2 separate regions of the Homo sapiens genome follow, and region 1 is linked to region 2. Evidence: fine-mapped expression QTL. Tissue or cell type: aorta. Region 2 holds a variant in brackets; the other region holds the start of a gene. All regions are shown on one strand. Distances are from middle to middle. Region 1 holds the start of CYBRD1 (cytochrome b reductase 1). Region 2 overlaps CYBRD1 (cytochrome b reductase 1).

Region 1 (2,911 bases), 29 kb before region 2:
CAAAGTGCTAAGATTACAGGTGTGAGGCACTGCGCCTGGCCTTTACTGTTAACTTAAAACAAAAAATTATAAATTTGAAAAAAGAGGAGACTTTATTTCTTATAAAAGGTTATAGCCTGCAAGGAGGCCATTCCATAGGCTGATAAACATAGCCTCTGGCCTAAGACCAGAGACAGGCACTTGGAAGGCAGAGGGGTTGGGGTAGGAGCTTTATGCTGAACAGTTTGGCCAAACATACATACGTAACAGGTTACAGGAGGAGCTATGAATATTAATGGAGGTGGTCCTTACACATGCATATTGAACAAACATGCATGTAACATGTTCTCTTTGGGGTGGAGACTTAACATTTAATTGTATTACTTCAAATACATTTAAATGTATTACTTCAAACCTACACTTCAAAAGGTCTTTTCAGGACGTGAATGCATACAAGTGCACAATCCCTGTACACTGGCCAGAACCGGTCCATGGTCGGTCTTCTTATCATGAAAAAGTTCCTGAAATCAGCCCAGTGAAAGCTGTAGTTCTGGCTGGTGCAACAGGGGTTCAGCTGGTCAGCATCTGTGAACTGATTAAGTTGTAATTGTTTTAATATTGCTTATCTCAAGCCAGTGCTTGTTTAGCCTCTAGAGGAAAAGAAAACCTTTGTGGCAGTTAGACCATAGTTTATTTCTTAAGTGTAGGAGTGTGTGACTTAGGTCCTTTTTATAATTTGATGTCTTATTGCTACAAAGAGTCTGTTCTGTCCGCCTTATGATTTCTATTTTAAACATTAATGCTAGTCAGCTGTTGAGTCTAAATTCCAAAATGGAGGGGGTAGACTTCCCTTCCGGCTGTAGCTAGAAACTCAGCTTTAAGGTTTTTCTGGGGTCTGCTTGGCCAAGGAGGTCCATTCAGTCAGTGAGGGGCTTAGGATTTTATTTTTAGTTTACACCACCTTACAGGTTCCTCCTTAACACCCTTTGATGTCAGAGACAGCCAATTCTCCAGCACTGTGGCTAAGGAGGCTTCGTTAGTAGTTAAAAGCACACACATAACCCTACCCAACGGATCCCTCTCTTCTCTTAACCAAGAGGGCGCACCACTGCCCTACTCAACCTCCCCACAAATAAGGACGAGACACGGGAAGTGTTAAAAGCAAGTGGTGAGTATAAAATCCTCGGAATTTTCTCTTTGAGCAACTAACTAGGTCTGTTACTGAAGCCCTCTGCGAGCTTGGATGCTGGACGAGGGAGAGGGTGAGGCCACCAGGCAATGAGCGCCCTCGGCGGCCGCGTGATCCCGGGGGTGGGGCCCATTTCTGAGTTGGGGCCAGCTCCCCACCCCCAAGAGGCCCCACATTCCGGGCCAGCAGCCCAGAAAGTCCCTCCCCGCAGGCGGAGACAGCCCCAAGAAGTCGACGCCCCGGTCCCGCCGCCCGGCCACTACCCAGAGGGCTGCCGCCGCCTCTCCAAGTTCTTGTGGCCCCCGCGGTGCGGAGTATGGGGCGCTGATGGCCATGGAGGGCTACTGGCGCTTCCTGGCGCTGCTGGGGTCGGCACTGCTCGTCGGCTTCCTGTCGGTGATCTTCGCCCTCGTCTGGGTCCTCCACTACCGAGAGGGGCTTGGCTGGGATGGGAGCGCACTAGAGTTTAACTGGCACCCAGTGCTCATGGTCACCGGCTTCGTCTTCATCCAGGGCATCGGTACTGGCACCTCCTGGGGGGGTGCGGGGAGGAAAGCGGGGAGAACGGCGGGGGCAGAGGGTCCTCCGTGAAGCCCCTTCCAGCTGAGGAAGTGCTGGAGGATCGCGGGGCCCGGAGGAGTGCGGTGAGGAGCGCGCGGGAAGCCAAGTCGGCTGGGCGGGAGGGAGGCTGGCTGGCTCTGGGGCGGGACAGAGCTGCGGTTCAGGAGGATCGCCGCGAGCGCGGGGCCGGGGGTGCGCGGTGGAGACGCGCTGCTGGGGGCGGCGGAGCGGGGCCGGCCCCACTTGGTTAACTCTTTGCGGCGACTGGCTAGGACGCACTGGAGGGGCCTCCAAGACCCAGAAACTTGAGCCCGGGCGCGATGCCGGAGCGCCGCGCAGTCGGGCCGCTGCAGCCCACGCGCCCCGGAAAGTCGCCCCTGTGGACCGAGCCTGCGCGATCGGGGGCGCGGAAACACTTTCGCCTCAGCCTTTTGCTGAACTTGCTTCCAGGCTGCAGATGAGGAGGGGAAGGCAGCGGGGAAAAGATTGCCGGAGCGAGAATTTGCCCGTATTTGTAACATCCTCGGCCCTGGGTAAAGGGGCTGGCCAAGGGGGGCGAGTGAAGCATCCGCCCTGGGTTCCTCTCCTCCTAGAGTGTTAAACTCAGTCGAGTCCGGGAAGCTGCCAGGACTTCCAAGTGTGTTTCGCCGCCCTGCCCAGTCATTGGACGGTCTTGAGCCCGACTTGTTTATGTGGCAGAAGAGTGGCGAAAGTTCCCCCGCGGGGCTTCCTATTGGGCACTGGCCCAGCACTCCGGGTGGGAGATGCCCGGAGAGGGCCCGCGGCTGCCTGGCACCGAGGGATGCCTCTGCTCGGGATGCCCCCGGCGCAAGCTGCGTCCGTGTTTGGCCCGCGGCGAGCCAGCCCCGGGCCTGCATTCTCTGGGCTGAGGCTGGCGCGGGGGAGGGGCTCAGCAGTCGCTGGCAATGTTTGTTGTCATTGTGTAGTGCCTCTCAATGTCCTGACTGCTTCCTTCGGTTTGCCGTGTAGCTGGAGGAACCTCTAGCTTTTGGCGCAAACACCATTTATTTGTAACCACTTCCCCAAAGGCACGGCCTTCAGAAAGTAGTTAGAGAAAGGCAGCAAGGGGTGGAGTGGTGTTATGTCGCAGAAAATAATCGAGAGGAGTAGCAAGGGTTTGGAAAGATATGCCCACTGGCCGAAATCTCTAGCTTTGCCTGC
Region 2 (2,911 bases):
AAAAACAAAAAATGAAAAAACCCACTGATACTGCCATAATCTAGAGATATCATTAGCTTTTGGCTTATTCCCTTTAGGCTTTTATTATGCCTATGCAAATGTAGATATAGATATTTAATTTTTAAACATAATTGGGTCATACTGTATTTTCACTTTCATCTCTAAGTAATAACTTTTTATGAAAGTTTATTTTTCCTTAGCTCTTAAGAACTTCCACTGTGTTGAAGAACAGCTTCCTGTAGGTGATGATTCCTAAACACTGGGGCACTTTGTTTGCATATAGTTGGCATTTAGTGTGTTTGTAGACTATATATAATGGAATATTCCACTACCTTCTCTTTTGAGGGTTTTCCAGACTGTTTATCCATATCTCTAGAATAATTTGAGTGAATCAACAGCAGTCATTTTCAAACTTCAACATACGTAAGAATCGTCTGGGCAGTTTGTTAAAAATACAGATTCCTGGGCCCTAATCCAGAAATTGGATTTAGCAGGTCAGAATGTGGCCCAGGCATCTTTTTATTTTTTATTTTTTTGTTGTTGTTGTTTTTGTTCTTGAGACAGAGCTTTGCTCTGTCACCCAGGCTGAAGTGCACAATGTCAGCTCACTGCAACCTCCGCCATCCGGGTTCAAGCAATTCTCTTGCTTCAGCCTCCAGAGTAGCTGGGACTACAGGCATGTGCCACCATGCCTGGCTAGTTTTTGTATTTTTAGTAGAGATGGGGTTTTGACATGTTGGCCAGGCTGGTCTTAAAATCCTGATCTCAAGTGATCCTCCTGCCTCGGCCTCCCAAAGTGCTGGGATTACAGCAGGCATCCCTTTAAATGCATGCCTTCTGTGAACAGCACTTCCAGTACTGACTTAGAGAGACAAAAGGTCTTATAATTTTCGGTCCACTAGGTTATAAATTATCACCTTCACTTGTAAGGTAGTAAGATTAAGATAGTTAAAAGGAAATAATGATTATTTATAAATTATAAGTTATTATAAATTATAAATATGCATTATTGCAGCATTCAGAACACTTTTAATCAAAGTTAAGCATTCTGTAATGTTTTTCTTTTCCTTTTAAATGTAATTTTCTTTTGTTGCAAAAAATGTTTAATGGTGAAAGTCAGATTTAGGGTAGTTAAGTTGCTCAGGGATCCTGTAAGCAAATTTCTGACCTCCTACCTGCTTAGACTGTTGAGCCCTACAGGATTGTAAGAGACACACATGACAAATTATGGAGGAAATGAGAGAAAACAGAAAGAATCTTAGGAATGAAAATAGGAGAGCAGGAATGAGA[AAT/A]ATATGTTTCTATGGGTAAGCCACAGAAAAGATATGATGATTTATGGAGATATATTTGTGCTATATCCCTGAGCCCCATTTTCTTTTCCTTTCTTTTCTTTTTTCTTTCTTAGACAGGGTCTCACTCTGTCACCCAGGCTGGAGTGCAATGGCACAATCTCAGCTCACTGCAACCTCCATCTCCAGGACTCAAGCAATCCTCCTGCCTCAGCATCCACAGTAGCTGGGACCACAGACGTGCACCACCATGCCCAGCTAATTTTTTGTAGAGATGGGGTTTCGCCATGTTGCCCGGGCTTGTCTTGAACTCCTGGACTCAAGTGATCTTCCCACCTTGGCCTCCCAAAGTGCTGGGATTACAGGCGTGAGGCACCACACTCAGCCCCCATTTTCATATAGAAAGCACAACATGGACATCAGGAAGCTTGCCCTTTGATACTAATAGAATCACTGAAGTTCACTGAAGAAGATTTAGGAATATTCTGAACCACCAAGAGGGAACCCTCTGAACCATTTCTAATATATTCAGGCATTTTGGTTATTAACTAAATAATAAAATATGCAAACCAACCTATCAAATGCATTTGTTATTACTTTTTAAATATAAATTACAGAATTTATTGTATTAGGATATACTTCAGAAAACAACAGTTAATCTTGGCTATTCTTGGCCCTTTGATCTATGTAAATTTTAGAATCAATGCATCAAATTCCACCAAAAATCTATTAGGATTTTATTTAATCTATAGATGAATTTGAGAACCGACATCTGTATAATACAAGTCTTCCAACTCATTATCCTGAGCCTGTTTTTTTAGCCTTCTCCAAAATATTGCAAAGCTTTATATTTTCTTTGTAGAGTTGTTGTCTCCAACTTATTGCTAGCTCCTTGCTATTAAAAATGGTATCATTAAAAATTAATTCACTTGTTGCCTCTTTACAAAAAGTGCAACTGATCTCAAGTATAAATTTATACCTAGCAAACTTGATAAACTTATGTTAGTAATTAATCTCAAGATTCTTTTGGATTGTGTTTTATAATCTTATGTGATTAATAAGTTTTGTTTCTTTTTCTATCATCATTTTTTTTTCTTGCTTAACTCAGTAGCTGAGACTTTCAGAAAAATGCTGAATAGGAATAGGTGATAAGGGATATAAGACAAATCCCTTCTAGATCTGAGTCATGTCTTGGAAGAGAGCTACTCTGAAATGCCTATAGACCATAAGCAGACTGTGTGTGAGCAAGAAATATACTTTTATATGTTAAGCTCTTGAAAATGGAGCCTGTTAGTTCCTATAGCATGTTCTGTCCTAATATAATCAGATTAAAATAATCATCTTCCATTCCTAGTTTGTTAAAACATCTCATACATGACTGTTGAATCCTACCAATGTTTTTCACCATCTGTTTTGATGATTATATGATTTTTCCTCTGCAGTCTGTTAAAGTGACAAATCATACAAATTGTTTTGTTATCAGTTTCCATTTATTACTACTTGGTATTACACATGAGCTGATTCTCAGTGTGAATTAGGGCGTTGGACCCCTCCCCCTGCCTCCCTTCTTCTGTCTCCCCATTAGCCCTTGGATCTCAATCAAGAAAGCTGAACAGTGATGT

Evidence for each region.
Region 1: it holds the start of CYBRD1, and the variant in region 2 is fine-mapped to the expression of CYBRD1 in aorta (GTEx, PIP above 0.99). The same link has a PIP of 0.9 or more in fibroblasts.

What each region holds. Positions count from the first base shown.
Region 1 is chr2:171,521,051-171,523,961 of GRCh38, forward strand. It overlaps CYBRD1 (cytochrome b reductase 1), which reads left to right and starts at 1,424. Exons shown (of 4, transcript NM_024843.4): 1 at 1,424-1,688. The coding sequence starts at 1,496. RefSeq lists an enhancer at 1,513-1,622 and silencers at 1,733-1,842, 1,993-2,062.
Region 2 is chr2:171,549,573-171,552,483 of GRCh38, forward strand. The region is part of intron 2 of CYBRD1 (cytochrome b reductase 1); the gene reads left to right. Among named protein-coding and RNA genes, the nearest start is that of CYBRD1, 29 kb to the left of the region's middle. The variant AAT/A (reference allele first, on the strand shown) is at 1,291.